Homo sapiens: one gene and its partners. The protein of the gene in region 2 interacts with the protein of the main gene of each other region in a pairwise test. Each region holds a gene or a part of one and is shown on either strand. Other genes may lie near its edges.

The links. Proteins that work in one complex are often made in the same cells at the same time.
Region 1: the proteins of BLMH (region 2) and NUDT12 interact in binary tests that used the Homo sapiens proteins (3 or more experiments, as listed by UniProt).
Region 3: the proteins of BLMH (region 2) and TNPO3 interact in binary tests that used the Homo sapiens proteins (3 or more experiments, as listed by UniProt).

What each region holds. Positions count from the first base shown.
Region 1 is NC_000005.10:103,552,783-103,559,812, reverse strand, and holds part of NUDT12 (NAD-capped RNA hydrolase NUDT12), read left to right. Parts: intron 1-344; coding exon 345-934; intron 935-3,714; coding exon 3,715-3,882; intron 3,883-4,959; coding exon 4,960-5,073; intron 5,074-7,030. UniProt on the Homo sapiens protein: mRNA decapping enzyme that specifically removes the nicotinamide adenine dinucleotide (NAD) cap from a subset of mRNAs by hydrolyzing the diphosphate linkage to produce nicotinamide mononucleotide (NMN) and 5' monophosphate mRNA.
Region 2 is NC_000017.11:30,247,697-30,253,968, forward strand, and holds the end of BLMH (bleomycin hydrolase), read right to left. Parts: intron 4,538-6,272; exon of another isoform or gene 4,378-4,537; intron 2,711-4,377; exon of another isoform or gene 2,091-2,710; intron 1,473-2,090; coding exon 1,321-1,472; 3' UTR 507-1,320; downstream 1-506. UniProt on the Homo sapiens protein: The normal physiological role of BLM hydrolase is unknown, but it catalyzes the inactivation of the antitumor drug BLM (a glycopeptide) by hydrolyzing the carboxamide bond of its B-aminoalaninamide moiety thus protecting normal and malignant cells from BLM toxicity.
Region 3 is NC_000007.14:128,968,105-128,975,134, reverse strand, and holds part of TNPO3 (transportin-3), read left to right. Parts: intron 1-172; coding exon 173-267; intron 268-2,552; coding exon 2,553-2,709; intron 2,710-4,819; coding exon 4,820-4,987; intron 4,988-7,030. UniProt on the Homo sapiens protein: Importin, which transports target proteins into the nucleus. Specifically mediates the nuclear import of splicing factor serine/arginine (SR) proteins, such as RBM4, SFRS1 and SFRS2, by recognizing phosphorylated SR domains.

The DNA.
Region 1 (7,030 bases), on a different chromosome or scaffold from region 2:
TAAATTTTCCTCCCAAATAGAAAATGCAGATCTCACTATGACTACCAAGGACTTCTTGTAGAATTTTGGTATCTCTTTATAGTGCATAAAGCTTAATACTGTTTTATTTTGTGAGTAATTATCCAGAAAGTGTAAGTATCCACTGTCTCTTAACTTTTTGTCATTTATGATTGTTCTTTTAACCTTCCCAATAGTAAACTATGTAACAAAAGAAAAAAAATCTATGTAATCATTAAAAAGAAGGACTTTAATATGTATCTGGAAATATTTTAGTGAAATAAATACGGAGAAAGTGTTTACTTCCTATTTTACTTTTTCTCCCCAATTTTTTCTTCCATCTATAGGTGTGACAGATCAATTGTCAATAAATCAAGGCAGACTGCACTGGACATTGCTGTATTTTGGGGTTATAAGCATATAGCTAATTTACTAGCTACTGCTAAAGGTGGGAAGAAGCCTTGGTTCCTAACGAATGAAGTGGAAGAATGTGAAAATTATTTTAGCAAAACACTACTGGACCGGAAAAGTGAAAAGAGAAATAATTCTGACTGGCTGCTAGCTAAAGAAAGCCATCCAGCCACAGTTTTTATTCTTTTCTCAGATTTAAATCCCTTGGTTACTCTAGGTGGCAATAAAGAAAGTTTCCAACAGCCAGAAGTTAGGCTTTGTCAGCTGAACTACACAGATATAAAGGATTATTTGGCCCAGCCTGAGAAGATCACCTTGATTTTTCTTGGAGTAGAACTTGAAATAAAAGACAAACTACTTAATTATGCTGGTGAAGTCCCGAGAGAGGAGGAAGATGGATTGGTTGCCTGGTTTGCTCTAGGTATAGATCCTATTGCTGCTGAAGAATTCAAGCAAAGACATGAAAATTGTTACTTTCTTCATCCTCCTATGCCAGCCCTTCTGCAATTGAAAGAAAAAGAAGCTGGTAAGAAATGAATGCTGCTTTTCATTGGTAAAATCTGGTTTTTAGACTTGAGTTGGAGTTGTATGTATTTGCACTTTCCAGGGGCACTCTTTTTCCAGTAAGCAGTGAAATTAGACTGTCTTCATCAGAAACTTCTTAAAGTTCTCACCCTAGGGGACTACTCTCCTGGGCAGTTAGTAGTTCTAATCAGCCCAGACTGATTTCCTGAGAATTAACCCTGGTGCATGATGATCTCATTTGATTCTTCATTGAATAATTCTTAGTTCCTGCTACACGTAGAACATGATGGCAAAGACTTTGACTGTTTTGTTTTGTATTCTGTTGATGGGGCTTTTTATGGCATGGTAAGAAATTGGGGTTTGATTCTAAAGCCATTTAAATGTAACCTAACCTGTGTTTAAAATATTTTTTTAAAAAAGACACTGCACACTGGCTGCATCATAGAGCATAAATTGTACACATGTAAGTAAGTAAGTGTGAAAGTTGGGAGTCTTGTTAAGAGGGAATTGAGTATTACAGGTGCCCAAGTAAGAGATTGCAATGGCTTGAGTTAGAATGGAGGCAGTGGAGATGGAGACAAAGGGAGAATCTGAGGTATTCTCGAGGTAGAAGGGATAGGGCTTGATCTGTAGGTTGAGACCCTTATAAGTGAGAGATGGTGGTAATATGGCATGAATTAAGGTACTGATAGTAGAAATGGAGGAAAGAGGGTATATGCAAGATAAAGTTTGGAGAGAAAATCACTGGTCTTTGCTATTGAATTGGATATGGGATATATAATAATGAAGGAAAAGATTAAGAATGACTGCTAGGCTAGAGACTTTAATAATTTGGTATATAGTGATACCATTTCTCAATAATATAGGATGATGGTTAGAGCAAGGAAAGCAGGACAGACTTGGATTAAAAAAATCAAGAGTTTACTTTTGGGCATACTAAGTTTTAGAAATGGACATTACAATCAGATGTCTGAACTGGAAATACCCATATGGCAGTCATCAACACACAGATACTTAAATCCCAAAAAACTACTGAGATTACTTGGAGAGTTGAGAGGAAGCAAGAAAAACTCAGAATAAGACCTGAATCCCCCTAAATTTAAAGGTAAGCTGCAAGCAGGAGAGCCATCAAAGGAGTTGGAAACAGTGTGGCCATGAGGTAGGAAGAGAGCAAGAGGCCTCAGGGAAACCAAGACAGCAGAGTATTTCCAGGAGGGAGTGGTCAAATGTATTGAATGCTGTTATGAACTTGAGTAAGATGAAGGCAAAGTGGTTTTTTTGTTTTGTTTTGTTTTTTAAAGCATCTTTGTCTTTGGTAATATGAAGCTATTGATGAACTTGACAAGAGAAACGTCAGTGGAGTGAAACGAACAGAAACCAGATTATGGTAGACTGATGAGTTACTGGGAAGTTAGGAATAGGTCACTTGTCAGTGACCACCTTCCCTTAGGTGATAGAGGTCCTTCCAGAGACTGCTTAAATATCTCCTCCTCAAAGTCTGGTGTGGTATGTTTTATTCTCCACACCTGTGGAGAAATCATCAAACTTTTTTAAGAAAATTTATTTTCTTTAGACATATATATATATATATATATATATCATTTTAAGATCAAAAAGATCTGATAAATGAGCTAGTTGCTTGCTTTTTTCCCTTGTAGGAAAACTGAGGCCTTTTAACTCACTTGCTCTATAAGTTTACACAGTTACTTAACTTTTCTGTGACTCAGTTTACTCCTAAAGAAAATGATAATAATAGTATCTATCTTCTTTAGGGTTGCTCTAAACATTAAATAATCTATATAAAATTCCTTGCATGGTGCTTGGCACATTGTAAGTACTCAATAAATGTTAGCTTTTCTTATTGTGATGATTCTGAAATAATGTAAATACCCTAGTGTAAGTTACATATTACAAGGTTACGTAGCAGGCAAAAACGTAATGTTGTCTATTCATTACAACTGTTTTATTTATTTTTCCCAGTTTAAACGATGTTAGAATTTTTGTTATTATTTTGTTCATTTCAAAAATCTGTAGACCAAATAATCTATTTTAGGGAGGGTAACTTTGTCAAGCATTTAACATATAGCATTTCTAGTCTTATTGCCTCAACTGTAATATTTCTGGCCAGGCCATATTAACTTTTTTTGAACTACCAGAGTAAAACCTATAGCTAAAGTGTATATATTTTAAGATTTATCCTATTAGGCATTTTTTGGTAAACAAAGTTAACCATGAATGTAGTAAATGCAGTGTGTTTTATACTGTGTACATGCAGTCTCCAGTTGAAAACAGGTTGTGTTCCACATGGCTTGGACCATCAATGGCATAGTCACCAAGAGAGTGGTGATAGCCTCCTACAGTTTCCTAGTAATATTTCCTTTAGAGTACAAATCTCACTTAAGAACTGACTTTGTGGTATATTTTTATTAAAATCACTATTGTAAAATCACTGTTTGTAAACTTACTCTACACTAGAATCATGAATACCCCAAATTTTAAAATCACCTACAGTAAAAGCCTGATCTAATATAGGATGTAAGATAGATGTCAGTATGTCTATCTTATATGAAAGTTATATTTTATTCAAACAAAAAAATCTAATTTTTGTAATCCAGAAAATTAAATCTTTTACTTTAAAAGAAGAATACGCATTATAAAAATAGAAATACTAAAACCCCTGATCACACAGCTATTCTTATTGTAGCTTGAGAACATTTTACTTATATATTGATTTTAATTTCTTACAGAATTAAAATTTTTGTGCTTTTCTTTTTTTTGAAGGGGTTGTAGCTCAAGCAAGATCTGTTCTTGCCTGGCACAGTCGATACAAGTTTTGCCCAACCTGTGGAAATGCAACTAAAATTGAAGAAGGTGGCTATAAGAGATTATGTTTAAAAGAAGACTGTCCTAGTCTCAATGGCGTCCATAATACCTCATACCCAAGAGTTGGTAAGCCCTTTATTTTATATCTCAGCCACCTGGATCTTGGGGAATAAGATATTTTGGAAAGAGAAAATTTGTGAGGAGCTAAAGAGTTTTCCTTTTTATGGAAAACATGTCTAACCATTAAGAATGTGTTAAAGTGTTACACACTTTCATGATTTTTAAGTAAAAAACATGGTACATCAATAGCCATTTCTTAACTTTGGGTTACTCACTATAATTTGATATGTTATGATACATGATTTCAAAAGCCAACCAATTTGGCTCTACTTAGTGGAGAAAAAGCCCCACTAAGTACAATTTATTGCCTGTTTGAGGCATTACTAAAGCAGTACAGCCTGGCCCTAGCTTTTCATTACTGTTAATGTCTGCCTGTATTCTCTCTTCTAATTGCTGCCTTGAGTCTGCTGTAGATTTGGAAATCTGGTAACCCAGACCTTTAAAACTGTGTGAAAGAAGAATAGATAGGCTCAGCAACACCTGAGGAGGCCTCTGGGGAGAAAAATACATGGCTTAGTGACATCTATTTTTGTTGCTCAAGAGCCTTTTACATTTAATTCCTAGTTCTTGGTCATGATATAGTGAGAAGAATTTGCTGAATTAGTAACTTCTAGAGAGATGAACTGTTATTTAAATTTTATTTAATGACTTTAATCATAGAATCACATTAGCTTTTAAAAACATTTTGTTAAGGGTTAGGATGGAAGAGGGAAATTAACTATTTACCGTGGTAAAATTTGAATTTTCCTTATTTCCATGTATTACCTACTCAAATTTTTTTCTCATTAAAAAGTAATAATACACCTAACATCCATAAGTACAGAATAAATGTTGCTGTTAAGATTGGGGGAAGAAGGACAAAAATGGTCTTCCTTTAGCTTACTGACACTATTCTATACAATTTCCCTGAGATATTCTATTATCAGCTACATTAGGGCAGAAAGAAGCAATCTCTTACAACCAGACAAGAGTTCTATCCCTATAGGAGATATACCTTTATATTATCCTATCAGACAGTGTTTGTACAATGAATCTAAATTCGTTTTTCCTGCCATTCATGTATCTGATTTTTTTTTTCAACAGATCCAGTAGTAATCATGCAAGTTATTCATCCAGATGGGACCAAATGCCTTTTAGGCAGGCAGAAAAGATTTCCCCCAGGCATGTTTACTTGCCTTGCTGGATTTATTGAGCCTGGTAAGCCATTTCTTAATAATTTATATTTAATTTATAATTTTAAAATACAAAGTTTAGGTAACATTTGAGAAATAATCTCTGATAAATTATCATGTTATAAAACTCGGTTATTTTAAGGTATTTTAAAAATGATACAATTTTAATAATATAAACATGTAATTCTCATGTTTTATATGAGAATTATATAAATTACTTTTCCTAGTAATTTGGTCTGCTTTGTTAAAAATTCAGTATTTGCTCTTTGATATGTTGCTCTTGACCCAGGTATCTAGGTTCCACCTCATTTCCTTCTGTACTAGACTCAACTGTTACCTTTTCAAAGAGGCCTTGCTTGATTGCCCCAGATACATTAGTTAGCCCCCATACCCTGCATTCACAATCCCTATCATCCTTCCTGATTTTTCCCTATGGCACTCATCATCACCTAATACCGTATGTAAGTATGTATATATGTACTTACTAATTTATTATCTTATGTTTCAAGAATATAAGTTTCATAAGCACAGGGACTTTATTTTATCCACTGCTGTATCTGAAACCCTCATAGCACATGCCTGTAGCACATGTAGTAGAAAGTCAGTAAATGTTTGTGGAGTGAATGAATACATCTAATTAATATGTTTTATCTCAATTTCAATTTCCAATATTTGCATTGCTAGATAATAACAGTAAACATATAGTATCAGGCTGTGTTTTGGAGGAGGATCATATCATATATATAAAACAGTATCAGGCTATGCTTTATATATATTTTTTGTATGATCCTTATACAACCTTATAAAATACACTATTACAGTGATTTTGCAGGTAGGGGCACTAAGGCATAGGGACTAAATAATTTGCTCAAGATCAAACAGCTAATAAGTGATAAGGAAGGGATTTAAGCCTGGGCATGTTGGTTTCTGAGTTCTTGCTCCAAATCACTATGCTGTCTTTAGTAGTTCTAGGTCATTGTCTTAACTGCTGGGTAGTAATCCATTCATGGATATTCCACTATTTATCCATTCTGCTGATTGGACATTTAGTTTATTTTAAAGTTCTTATTACAAACAGCACTGCAATTAATATTTTTATACTTCTCCTTGTGCACATTTGCAAGAGTTATCTAGGTTATATACATAGAGTAGTACGACCAGCTCATGTGTTATGAGCATCTTAACCTTTTCTGTATGTTGCCAAGTTGTCTCTGAAGTGTTTCTGCCAATTTACACTTCCTCCAGCAGAACATGAAATGTTCCATTATTCCACATCTTCACCAAGTTAGGATTTTCAGACTTTTAAATTTGTCATTCTGAGGAGTGAATGAAATCGTATCTCGTTTTCATTTTCATTTTCTTGCCTATGGAACATCTTTTTTCAAATGTGTATTAGGCATTCAGTTTTCTTTTCTCTGAATTTTAGATGTTTATCTTTTACCTAGTTTTGTTTTCATTGTTTATCCTTTTTTATTCATTTTAAGAATTCTTAAATATGTAGCATATGCTAATCTTTTGTTAGTTATGGTTTTGCAAATACCTTACACTAGTCTATAATTATATTTTTACTATATGTGTTCTTTTGATTATTATAAGTTAATTTTCATGTAGGAAATTTATCAATCTATTTGAAATAGAAAGCTATATTTAAAATATATTTTGCTAAATACAGCAATATTTAGCAAAATGTTTCTAAACTTCCAGATTTTACTTAGAAATGATTTTACTTAGAAACAATTTCCCCTATTCTAATTCTTAATTCCAACAAATTAGAAATATAAAGTACATTTATAGGCATCACTTACCATAGCAGAGTCAGCAGTCATCTAGAGGAAAATAATTGCTTAGAAAAAGTATTAAATTTCATCTTATGTAGTTTGTAATCTTGTAATGACCTGAAAAGAGTTACCTGCAATAATTGTTTGACAACATAATAAAAAAAAGTTTCAGAATTTTAGTGTGAAAGAGCTATTTGTAAAAAT
Region 2 (6,272 bases):
TTCCAACCCTGTTAAGACTCTTCTACAGTTGCTTTTTGTGTAGCTGACCAACATAACAATCATGTTCTTTATTCTACATTCCTTGATACATTTCAACCCTTCCATACTGATCACTTCCCTTCTGTTGGGGCAAATTCAGTTTTTTTTGTGAAAATGTTTTCTATTTTACCCTTGTTCTTGAAAGGGTGGCCCAATCTCAGTAAGATAACTTACTGACCTATTCTAAGGCTGGGCCCAACAGAGCCTCACTCCCCACCCTTGTAGGGACCCTGGATCTGGGTAGAACATTTATGCGGTAGGGGAACAGTCCTTCTTAAACAGGCGCTTGGAAGCCCTTTGCAGATGCCGGTGAGAATCGGCGGTCTGGGAAAGAGTACACATCTTGCAGAGAAGCTGAAGAGGGAAGCCCTTTTCCTGTTTTTTCACTTTCAAGAACATGAGCCACCTGGCTGCTTTCTTTTGTAGATAAACAAACACTTCTCAGACAGATCACATAAATCAGCTTATTCTCATTTAGCAAAGTTTTTATTCAAAAGCTTCTCAGCACCATCTAGTTATCAGAAAGAATGGATATCACCTTTTCCTGCCCACCCAATCCCCAGTTCCACAGGCAGAAGTTAAACCATTTGGCTAGAGTTCCCCCTAATGATTATGACTGAGACCATGATAAGATTTTGGTTGTTCTCACCCAACTGTCTCTAAGCCTCTACTCAAACCTGACTCAAGCAGAGATGTGCACACCCCACAGTTCAGAACAGGAAGGAATCATGTCAGATCTGATCAACCTCCCATTCTTGGGCTATTAGAGGCACAAGAAATTACCTTGAAAAAATGGAATTCAGTGACTGCCATCTAGGAAAGACAGTGATACTGTCCAGCAGCATGCAGTTCCGAGAGCTCAACTCTTAGGCCACCCTCCCTCCACTCTACTCTAGGAACAAGGAGCATTAGGTCTGTTTTCTCTCCATACACCTCAATCGCTCGTCCTCTCGTCTTATTAAAACACAGACACAGAACCAAACTTTTTGACAGTTAAAGACAAACAATTACATCTAATTAAAATGCTAAGAGATCCTGAGCTGTTAGAGATGAGGAGAGTAGATAGTATGACCTGATCTTCCCCCCTCTTTTTTTTCCTTTAACAGTATTCTGTTTCAGCATAAAGCACACTTTCTGAAGAGGTTCCTGGTGGAGACTGGAAATCTGACTGTGTCCTGTGGCAACACACAGTCCCTTGCATAACTTTGGCTTCAGTCCCTGGATCTGTCCTTTGCAGCTACGTCAGGTTCCATGGAAGGAGGAAAGAGCTGGAGGGCAGTATCACTCAGCCAAAGCTCCCATGGGGTCCCATGCTGGCAGGATAATGGGTTCCTGCTCTAACACAGCTAGCACCTCTTCAGGGACATGCTTCCTGTCCACCACCACTTCGTAGACATACTCAGAGAACCACTCATCTGTCATGCACAGGTAACCTGGAGAAAAGAACAGAAGACTTATGAGTCCAGAGGGCAAGGGACAAAGAGCAGAAACCCTTTTTGTAGGATAAACCTTTTACAAAACTAATATTCATACATATTTTTCAGCTTTCCCATCTGTAATTTCATTTAATCTAAATCTTATTAGCAATTCTGTGAAGCAGATAGGACAGGCATGGCTCTATTTTTAGAAAAATTAGAAAACCGGGTCTTGAGTAACTAGGTGATGTGCCCAGGTCACATGGTGAGGTTCAGAGCTGGGCCTTGGACCTAAGGCTAACACCAGATCCTGTACTGATGCTCTCTTCCTCCGCTGCCTTGGTGATGGTGAGTGATGACCTGTATACTAGTAGGGAGGCAGAAAAACTTCTCATTCATACAGCCACACCTAGGGCATAAATCTCTAGGGTCAGAAGGGCAAGCATCCCAGTTCCTTTCTTACCCTACCAGTGTCAATGGCTGTTCTCCCCCATTCCTTTCTATCACACACTCCTACAACAACCAGGCGGGCTGCTGTGAGCATTCTGATGGGGCCAAGTCATCATTCCTAGGTATGCACTTATTTGCAGATGATAGTGTGGGAGTCAAATGATAAAACAGTCCTTGTTTTCCTAGGAGGAAATCTACGATGACGATCAGGCGGAACTAGAAGACTCAGACATCTGCTTAACCTGCTCTCCTTAGGAAGGCCTCTCCAGTGGGTTAGGACTATACAGAGGTGCCCCGGCACTAATGCCCCATTTAAGGTTGAAAGCTCAGCTGAGAGAAAAAGTGTGGTGTCATCGGGTACCCATCCTAGTAATAGTTGCCTTCCATAAGGAGGATTAACCTGCATCTCAGGCTCCACTAGGCCAACACAAATTCCCCTTCAGAAACCAGATCCTCATCTCTCACCTTACACAAAAATCAACTCAAGATGGTCAAAGGCTGAAAGCTAAAACCTGAAACCAATACAAGTTCTAGAAGATAACATCGGAAAAACTCTTCCAGACATTGGCTTAGGCAAAGAATTCATGACTAAGACCCCAAAAGCAAATGCAACAAAAACATAAATAAATGGGACCTAATTAAACTAAAAGGCTTCTGCACAGCAAGAGAAATAGCAGTGTAAACAGACAACCCACAGAGTGGGAGAAAATCTTCGCAAACTATGATTCCGACAAAGGACTAACACCCAGAGTCTACAAGGAACTCAAACAATCGGCAAGAAACAAACAAACAAACAAAAAACCAAATAATCCCATCAAAAAATGGGCAAAGGACATGAATAGACAATCTGAAAAAGAAGATACACAGCCAACAAACATGAAAAAATGCTCAACATCACTAATTATCAGAGAAATGCAAATTAAAACCACAATGTGATACCACCTTACTCCTGCAAGAATGGCCATAATTAAAAAGCAAAAAAATTACAGATGTTGGTGTGGATGTGGTGAAAAGGGAACACTTTTACAATGCTGGTGGGAATATAAACTAGTACAACCACTAAGGAAAACGGTATGGAGATTCCTTAAAGAACTAACGATCTACCATTCGATCCAGCAATCCCTCTACTGGGTATCTACCCAAAGGAAAAGAGGTCACTAAATGAAAAAGACACATGCACACGCATGCTTATAGCAGCACAATTCACAACTACAAAAACATGGAACCAACCTAAGTGCCCATCAACCAACGAGTGGATAAAGAAAATGTGATATTTATACATCATGGAATATTATACTCGGCCATAAAAAGGAAAAAAATAATGTATTTTGTAGCAACTTCGATGGAGCTGGAGGCCATGATTCTAAATGAAGTAACTCAGGAATGGAAAACCAAATATCATATGTTCTCACTTATATAAGTTGGAGCTAAACTATGAGGATGCAAAGGCATAAGAATGATATAATGGACTTTGGGCACTCAGGATGGAAGAGTGGGAGGGGTGGAGGGATAAAACAAAGACAACATACCAGTGTACACTGCTTAGGTGCTGGGTGCACCAAAGTCCCAGAAATCACCACTAAAGAACTTATCCATGTAACCAAAACCCACCTGTTCCCCAAAAACTACTGAAAGTTAAAAAAACAAAAACAAACAAATCTGTTCTTTCAGGAACAGATCTCCAAAAAACTTAAATGGGAAAAAAATGCTTTACCCGAGCCATTGCTAATAAGAAGAGCAAAATTAAAGTGAGAGACTGAAGTCCGTATATTTAAAACAAGAATGGGCTGCTGGGCCACAGACAGAACACAGAGCAAACGATGTGTACTGAATCAAGAGAAAGGCAGGCACACACATCCAAGGGCTCCCGGACTAGCAATGGCCATCAGCACCACGACTGTCATCTGACCGTATCTGCTACTTGTTTTATAGTAAACACTGGAGCCATTTTTCTCTGAAAGTTTGTATAAACCTAGGCCTGTGCTATACCATTTCCCACTACACAGGACCAAGAGAACGGAGAAGTAGGTGTTTCTAGCAAGAGGGTCCCCTAGTGAGCAGTTCTCATAAACCTAGGCCTGTGCTATACCATTTCCCACTACACAGGACCAAGAGAACGGAGAAGTAGGTGTTTCTAGCAAGAGGGTCCCCTAGTGAGCAGTTCTCAAGCCTCTTGGCCTCAAGCCCTGCCCTTTACATTCTTAAAATTATTAGGGACCGAAAACATTCTTTATGTGGACTAATATCTATCATTATTTACTATATCAGAAACTAAAACAGAAAGTTAAAAATATTAATTCATTTAAAAATAAGTATGAAAAATGAATATAAACAATATATTTTGAGGAAAAAAATTATATTATGTAAAAAAATATTTTTAGTTAAAAAAGTGGCATTGTTTTACATTTTAATGTCTAGATTTGCAGAAGACAGCTGAATTCCTGTATCTGCATCTGTGTTTAATCTGTTGCAGTATGTTGTTCTGCTTGAAGCAGATGAAGGAAATCCAGCCTCACACAGATATGTTGCTCAAGGGCAGACCCTGCACACTCCCTGAAAGGGCCCTAGGGAACCAAAGATCACACTTTGAGAACTGCTGCTCTTGAGGCAAGACTGGATTAAATTTAAAGGCAACAATACTGGTAAGTCTAATTTTGTATGCTAAAAGGTGTGACAAAGGGCATTATTTAACCTGAAAACACAATTGATTTGGTGAAGTCATCTATGCCCAATCCTGTTTTTCACCCGACAGAAGTCAAAGACAGATCATCCTGACGTGGCATAGCATACGTTTACCCTCAAAAACACTGTGGAGGCCAGGTGCAGTGGCTCACACCTATAATTTCAGCACTTTAGGAGGCCGAGGCAGGTGGATTGCTTGAGCCCAGTTGTTCAAGACCAGCCTGGGCAACATGGCGAAACCCCATCCTCACAAAAAAAAAAAAAAAAAAAAAAAAAATTAGCTGGTGTGGTGGCCTGAGCCTGTGGTTTCAGTGAGCCAAGATCACACCACTGCACTCTAGCCTAAACAGAGTGAGACCCTGTCTTGGGGGTGGGAATGGTAGGGGTTGGGAGTGCTCTGTAAAAGTGTTCAAGTGCTCCGACCAAGGCAGGTAAAGGAATGCACTCTTGTCTCCTGATAAGCTGGCCTCCTGGATCCAGGGCCCCTACTTTCAATAGACGAGAGACGGAAGGACAGTACAGGCCCACTCTGTAGCTACTTCTGGCTTGTCTTGATTATATATTCCAAACTTCCTGGCTTTGTTGGTGTCAGGACCTGGCCCTTAATTAACATCACCCACACCAGTGCCACCAGGTTCTAGCAACAAAAGTTCTGTCCGCTCAAAGGTCAACCAGTGCGTATTATTTAAAACTAAAATACTGCATCCTAAGTGAGTGCTTCCTGAAAAACTAAGCATCTGCCTTCCCAAAAAGGAGCTTTCAGCAAGCAGGAGAGCAGACTAGGGAACACCACACTGTTTGAGACATTAGTCGTCCCTTCCCTCACCACAATGCAGGCTGAATAAATCACTGCAGTGGCCCTGGGCAGTTAGGCAGGTGAAGGATAGAAGCAGATTCATGTAATAAAATTCTGTGTCCTTTCAACAATACTATCACCATACAATCAAATGAATCTTCAAAGAATGCTCCCAGAAGATGGACAATAAGTACATCTACACTATCTTGTTCCAAAAGCATATCAGATTAAGTCCTCACAAATTAAAATTCCTATCAATTGTAACCCACCCTTTCAATGTCCCTGCCAAGAGGACCCGCCTTGATTAGTCTCTCTCTTCAGGATATGAGTTCTTTGGGGACCCACAAAAACCTCACAGTCTAGGTAGCTGCCAAGTAATTGCGCCCTATGTAGATAATGAACTTGTGGCTGCCGTAACTGTTGACACTGTGTGTCTTGGAGTTTGACTGAGAAGATTAGGATCAGTGTGTCTGAAACCTGTGTAGGAAGCAGCAAAGCACCGGCTCAGGCAGGATTCGGCTGGCCCTTTTGACTTGCGGGAAGGTGCAGCTCCTAACCCTTAGACACACTGGCCGTGAGACACAAGCATTCCAAGGAAAAAAGAAAAGAAAACAAAATAAAAACCTGCTCCAGGGATCCCAAGGTTACACTGAGTGAAACACAGACAAATAGATAAAGTCAGCTTTAGGAACTAAGGTGAAATTAAATTTTGTTTAAACTTTAATGTCTTGTTTACATGCGATGAGAAAGAAAGAAAAGTGAACAGTCCTCAAAACAAAACACCTCAAACCAACCAACCAACCAAAAAACACTGGCAACGTTTCTGTATTTTGTAACAGAAAGGGTAGGGTCAGTCTGTAAAGGGAAAAACAGTGTCTGTGAATATAGCT
Region 3 (7,030 bases), on a different chromosome or scaffold from region 2:
AGGATTTATGTGTTTCTTTTCCTGATCAGATTCTCATTACAATCTTTTTCTTTTCCCAGCTGTGCTTTTCTTCTTTGTTCCTTTTGTACTTATTGTAATAAATATTTGGCAAGTCTGAATGCTGTGGCATTTCTGAAAAAGCATTTCTTTTAAAATCACTGTTTTGTTTTAGGCACTGTGCATCCCCACCTTTCAGCTCCTAGAACAGCAGAATGGTCTCCAGAATCACCCTGACACTGTAGATGACCTGTTCCGGCTAGCCACCAGGTAAATCCTTCTGAAGAGCCCATTTCTTAATTGCTCATCCTATCACTGCTTAGTCTTGCCATCTGACCCTTGGTTGTTTTATTCTTGTAAAATGAAGTCACTGGAGTAAGTAGATTAATGATTCATAACCCAAAGGTAAATTGCAAGCTGATATATCCCCAGCAGTGACGCAGAGTATTGCGGGAAGCAAGGGATAAAGGAGCTGAGTTCCTGCCAGGAAGGAGGGCTCACACACAAGACAATGCAGTGTGCCTGGCAAAACACTTGACTAGATCATCTCTACAGTCCTCTGTAGGTTTTAACTGTTCGTGCTGTTGCGATTTCATGTTTCACCTCAACCTTCTCTTTGAGAAGCTTAGCATCCTTTAGATATAATCAGTTTCGGAATAAAGAATGTTTGGGATTTTAAGATGCCTTAGCAGTTATCTCATACTGTATTTCTCAGCTCTACTCACAGCCTACTTTATCAGTAGCACTGATAATATGATTGCCAAACTTCTGCTTGAATTCCTTAGTCCCTAACTAAGGAATTTGAACCAAAACTGTTACCATATCAGCATTAAAAAAAAAAAAAAAAGAAAAATCATTATTTTCGAAACAACAAAAGCCCAACTGTTATATCATTTACAAATGCAAAGTAATGTTGACTTGATTGTTTCATCTTAGGATTGATTTTTTTTCTTTTTTCTTTTTTGAGATGGACTCTCACTCTGTTGCCCAGGCTGGAGTGCAATGGCATGATCTCGGCTCACTGCAACCTCTGCCTCCTGGGTTCAAGTGATTCTCCTACCTCAGCCTCCCGAGTAGTTGGGATTACAGGTGCCCACCACCATGCCCAGCTAATTTTTGTATTTTTAGTAGAGACGGGGTTTTGCCATGTTGATCAGGCTGGTCTCAAACTCCTGGCCTCAGGTGATCCGCCCACCTTGGCCTCCCAAAGTCCTGGGATTACAGGCGTGAGCCACCGTACCTGGCAGGATTGAATATTGAACCCTTTTTTTTTGTTAGTTTTTGGATAGGTTAGAAAAACCCTTTTTTTTTCCTTTTCTTTTTTTTTTTTTTTCAGTTGATAGAATTGTTGGATGGGCTGTCACCCTCTGTTTTCTTTTTTTTTTTTTTTTTTTTTTTTTTTGAGACGGAGTCTCGCTCTGTCGCCCAGGCTGGAGTGCAGTGGCGTGATCTTGGCTCACTGCAAGCTCTGCCTCCTGGGTTCACGCCATTCTCCTGCCTCAGCCTCCCGAGTAGCTGGGACTACAGGCACCCGCCACCACACCCAGCTAATTTTTTGTATTTTTAGTAGAGACGGGGTTTCACTGTGTTAGCCAGGATGGTCTCGATCTCCTGACCTCGTGATCCACCCTCCTCGGCCTCCCAAAGTGCTGGGATTACAGGCCTGAGCCACCACGCCCGGCACACCCTCTGTTTTCTTAGGGTATGTATTCCTTGGAAAACTAGTCCCTAAAAATGTTCTTTATACAAATGATGAAACAAGTTTGGAGTATACTGTACCTTTTTCTGAAGAGATTCTCCCTGTATATTAAAGGAACTTAGAAACCTGATAGTAGTTTAAAGGAAAAAATAAACAAGCAAAACTACTTTCAAAATCCAGCAGCATTTCCCAAGCTTACCTGAACACACAACCTTTTCTTTGAGGGATTCCTGTTGACATCCTGGGAACTGGAATTCTGTGAACTTTAGTTTGGGAAATGCTGTTCTAGCATCTTTAGGACTTTTTAACCTAGGAGAGTTTCTACTTGTAGGTCCTTTTGACTGGTCTTTCTTGATTTATAAAATCTTAGTTGGAAATAGGATGTGGTGACACGTCTTTTAATATACTAATCTTAAGATATGGTCCTTTTTTTTTAAAGAGCAACTTTAGGTTCACTGCAAATTTGAGTGAAAAGTTGCTCCCATATACCCCTCCCTCCTAACACACACAGCCTTCCCCTCTATTAGCATCCCCCACCAGAGTAATACAAACAGTGACCCTATATGAACACATCATTATCACCCAAAGTCCATAGTTTACATTAGGCTTCACTCTTGGTGTACATTCTGTGGGTTTTGACAAATGTGTAATGACATGTATCCACTGTTATAGTATCATACAGAATACTTTCACTGCCAAAAAAAATCCTCTATGTTCTGTCTATTCATCCCTTCTTCCCTGAAACCCCCCACCAACCACTGATCTTTTTTACTGTCTTCATAGTTTTGCCCTTTTACCCTGGCTGCTTTTATAGCCTAATCTTGTCATTTATACCTAGTCTCACTTTCCACACCAGGTTTATTCAGCGTAGCCCTGTCACCTTGCTGCGGAGCCAAGTGGTCATCCCTATCTTACAGTGGGCCATTGCCTCTACTACCCTGGACCACCGGGATGCCAATTGTAGTGTCATGAGGTTTCTACGAGACCTCATTCATACAGGGGTAGCCAATGATGTAAGTATAAAAATGATACCATTTCTACTTAACAGCTTTTATCTCCTATCTCTTTGTCATTCCTTAGGAGAAAACCAGCATCCCAGTATTTCCTTACTTGATCTATATTGGTAGACATATATCATAGTGGATCATTCACTAGCCAAAATATCAACTAAGACACTTGTGCTGGGTGCTTTAGGCTATATAAAGCAGTCTAAAACTGTTCATGCTCCCAAATCATTTGGTGTCTAGTTGAAGAGAGAAACAAGTTTAAAGAGTTAAGTAACAACAAGATGCCAGTGTTTGGTGTTTTTCATTTGTTTTTGAAACAGGGTCTTGCTCTGTCGCCTAGGCTGGAGTACAGTGATGTGAATCTCAAGGGATCCTCAGCTACTGAGTAGCCAGGACTACAGACATTCAACACCATGCCTGGCTAGTTTTTATATTTTTTGTAGAGATGGCATTTCACCATGTTGCCCAGGTTGGTCTTGAACTCCTGGCCTCAAGTGATCCTCCCACCTTGGCCTCCAGTATTTGATTGTCAGATGAGTGATAAAAGTCATGATTGGTATGAGATCAGACGAGGGAAAGCTCTAGACCAAAAAGAGTTGGAATAACTTTATGGAAGGGGAGGGATTTAAATGAAGCCATGAATTAGAGGTAGAATTTTGATGGATTAGAGAGGCAGATAGTCATACTGCCTCTAAGCCAAGATCAGAGCAAGTCAGAATAGTACTAAGTTTGTTAGTAGACAACTAAGCAGTGGGAGTAGTAAAGTGCTTCACAGGAATTTCGAAGGTAGGTTTGATTAGATGTGGAGTAGAATTGTAGACAGGGGAGAGCAGTGAAGAAGTAAGTATTCTGCATTCTATTTAGGCTATTCATTTAAGAAGTTTGGCAGTAAAAGAGAGAAGAAAATAACTAGAAGGGAAAGGCAATTTAAAAAATATTTTTCTCAAGGTATTAGAAATACATGTGTATTTAAAGACCACAAGAAGGGCCAGGCGCAGTGGCTCACGCCTGTAATCCCAGCACTTTGGGAGGCCAAGGCGTGCAGATCACTTGAGGTCAGGAGTTCAAGACCAGCCTGGCCAACATGGTGAAACCCTGTCTCTACTAAAAATACAAAAATTAGCCAAGTGTGGTAGTGTATGCCTGTAATCCCAGTTTCTAGGGAGGCTGAGGCAGGAGAATTGCTTGAACCCAGGGGATGGAGGTTTCAGTTAGCTAAGATCAGGCCACTGCACTCCAGCCTGGGTGACAGAGCAAGACGCTGTCTCAGAAAAAAAAAAATTAAAGACCGCAAGAAGAAAAAAAGGGTTTTTTTTTTTTCGATAGAAAAAATTAGATCTCTGATAGACGTCTTCAATTCTAATTTCAGTTGGTTTTGTTTTGTTTTGTTTTGTTGTGACTTGGGGTTCCGGCTGTGTTACCCAGACAGACTGTAGTGGCCATTCACAGGCGAGATCCCACTACAGATCAGAATGGAATTTTGACCCACTCTGTTTCTGACTTGGGCTGTTCACCCCTCCCTCCTTAGGCAACCCAGGAGTGGTTCCTCACTCCTGGGAGGTCACCACATTGATGCTGAACTTAGTACAGGCACCCAATTGGTATAGCATGCTCTAGCCCAGAACACTGGGTTCAAGCTGTTCCCCTACCTGCGCCTTTGGAGTGGCTGGGACTATGGTGTGTGCTGCCATGCCAGGCTGACTTAGTTTTTAAAAAAGGAAATAGGAACACAAGTTATTTTTCACATTAAAAAAAAATTAATACCATCACATAGAAGATGAAGAGAAAAAAATTTTAAAAATTGCTAACTTTAATTCTTAACCATGTTTTCTGCCTTCAAATCATGAAAAATCTAAGCATTAATCTCTGTTGAAACCCATGTTCATTCCTTGGATACTAATAAACTCCTTCATTTTCTTTCTAAAGACAAAAAACTTCTGGACTTTGTGAATCCAGCTGTCATTTTACACACACCTGCATACACACACACACAGCCACGCGTGCACACACACACACACTTTCCTATTAAAGAGAAATTACTAAAGGGGAAAGAGTGCTTGGTCTTTGGGAAGTTGAGACTAGAATTTATCTGATGTTCCTGCTTTCCTACATACAGCATGAAGAAGACTTTGAATTACGGAAAGAACTGATTGGACAGGTGATGAACCAGCTTGGACAGCAGCTTGTCAGCCAGCTGCTGCACACCTGCTGCTTTTGCCTCCCCCCCTATACCCTACCAGATGTGGCTGAAGTGCTCTGGGAGATCATGCAGGTTGACAGACCGGTAAGATTGTTTTCATGAGGAATTTATCTCATAGTCCCTAAATGTAATAGGCTTTGGTTCCTTAAGGCCAACCCTAATTTTGAAACTAGCCCTGTTTTCTGTCCATGGAACCAAATTTAGGCATATTGCCAAATTAGATTGGTAGATGAAGAGGCCCGTAAAGATCAGTAATTTATTATTGAGTTCTTTAAAGCATGTTTCTATGTCACTGTCATAGGGGGTATATTACCAGAAGTAAGTATCAAGCATTGAATTCAGTTGTGTGGCTGTCCAATGTGAAATTTGTTCACTTGTGAGAGATGCCCAAATGTCAGTTATATTAGTTACGTATTACTCAAGAAGTATTTAATCCTTTCAGACTTATTCTATAGCACTGTATTATTTCTTGGTGATACATCTAGCCAGAACATTTGGAAGCACATAATTGTCAAAGTAACCCACAATGTACAGTTGGATATATTTCCCCTTTGGATTTCTTTGAACCAGATCCTTTATCACCCACCTAAGGATGGAGTTGTTTTTTTAAAGCTATCTAATAATGCCCAAGTAATTTCAGTACTGGGCCACATGACCATAACTCAGGTTATGTGTACTGTGTGAAAGTTGAGTAGAATGGTAAAGTATAATATAACCTGAAATCATTTTTAAAATGGAATTTATAATTTTTAATATTACTGTAAAAGCAGTTCAGGAAAGTACTCATTGGGACCTAGTTAAAGTGAGCTGTCTTACAGAACCACAGAATATAAAATTGATAATAATAATATATAACAGATAGTACCTATTCCTCTCTGGTTCAATACACATGTTCCATTTCAACCTGATAGAGTAGCATATTTGTTTTTCTAAAGAAAAGTACTTTTTGAGCCTCCAGGAATCAGCAAATTTAATTCAAAAGTCCTTGACCTGAGGGAAAAAGTCTTCATACTCTGCTTAAACTTTTTTACAAATACATTTGGTTCCCAAGTAACAGAAAACTTATGTAAATCTAACTTTATGAAAACATTCTTGATTGTAAGCATATTGTTAAGTGCGAACAACAACAACAAAAAATGAGAACAAGAAGTTTGGACAGGAATAGAAACCAGGTAGCCATGTACTCTAAGGAGTGTACTGTATATCAGCCAGACACAATGGCTCATGCCTGTCTTCCCAATACTTTGGGAGACCAAGGCAGGAGGATCACTTGACGCCAGGAGCTTGAGACTACCAGCCTGGGCAACATAGACCCCATCCCTACAAAAAAAAAAAAAATTTTTTTTCTTTTTAATTAGCTGGGTGTGGTGGCATACATCTATAGTCCCAGCTACTCAGGAGGGTGAGGTAGGAGGATTGCTTAAGCCCAGGAGTTCCAGCCTGCAGTGAGCTATGATCATGCCACTGCACTCCAGTCTGAGCTGCATAGCAAGACCCTGTCTCAAAAAAGAAAAAGTTTGCTATATAACAACTATTATGTATTTTTAAGAATTAAGGAGCTGTTATGTATCCATAATTAAGAAATGCTTAGTACTTCATGAGCATTTATAATACTTTTGCTCTGGCCTATTATGGCCATAAATGAATATGATGGGAAAATATATAATGTAAAAAAAATTAGGTATAAAAGAGTAATTTTACAGCCCAAAACTATGACTGAAGTATACATTCCACTTAAGAAAGGGATGAAGAAATATTAGTGCTGACCCAAAGGACAACAATTAAACTGAAAATAAGAACCCAGAGGAAGTCTGTAGAATTTTTATTTTAGAAAGGAAGGAAGTAAAGGGAGTAGACAATTTTTGTGCATAGAAAAGGCATAAAGAGAATTCTTAGATATACTTATATAAAAAATATATAAGTAAATTAAACAGCAACAAGAGCAAGGTTTTTTAACACAAAGAACAGGCAGATATCACAAAGGAACTGAATGGATAGGACTTATTCTGAGAGAGATGGCCTTAAAATCCTTAAGATTCTGGACTCATATGTCTCATATGTATACTTTCTGACATGGTGGCTTAGTATACTTTTTGCCCCTGCTCTTTCAGGTATCTGAACCTTTAC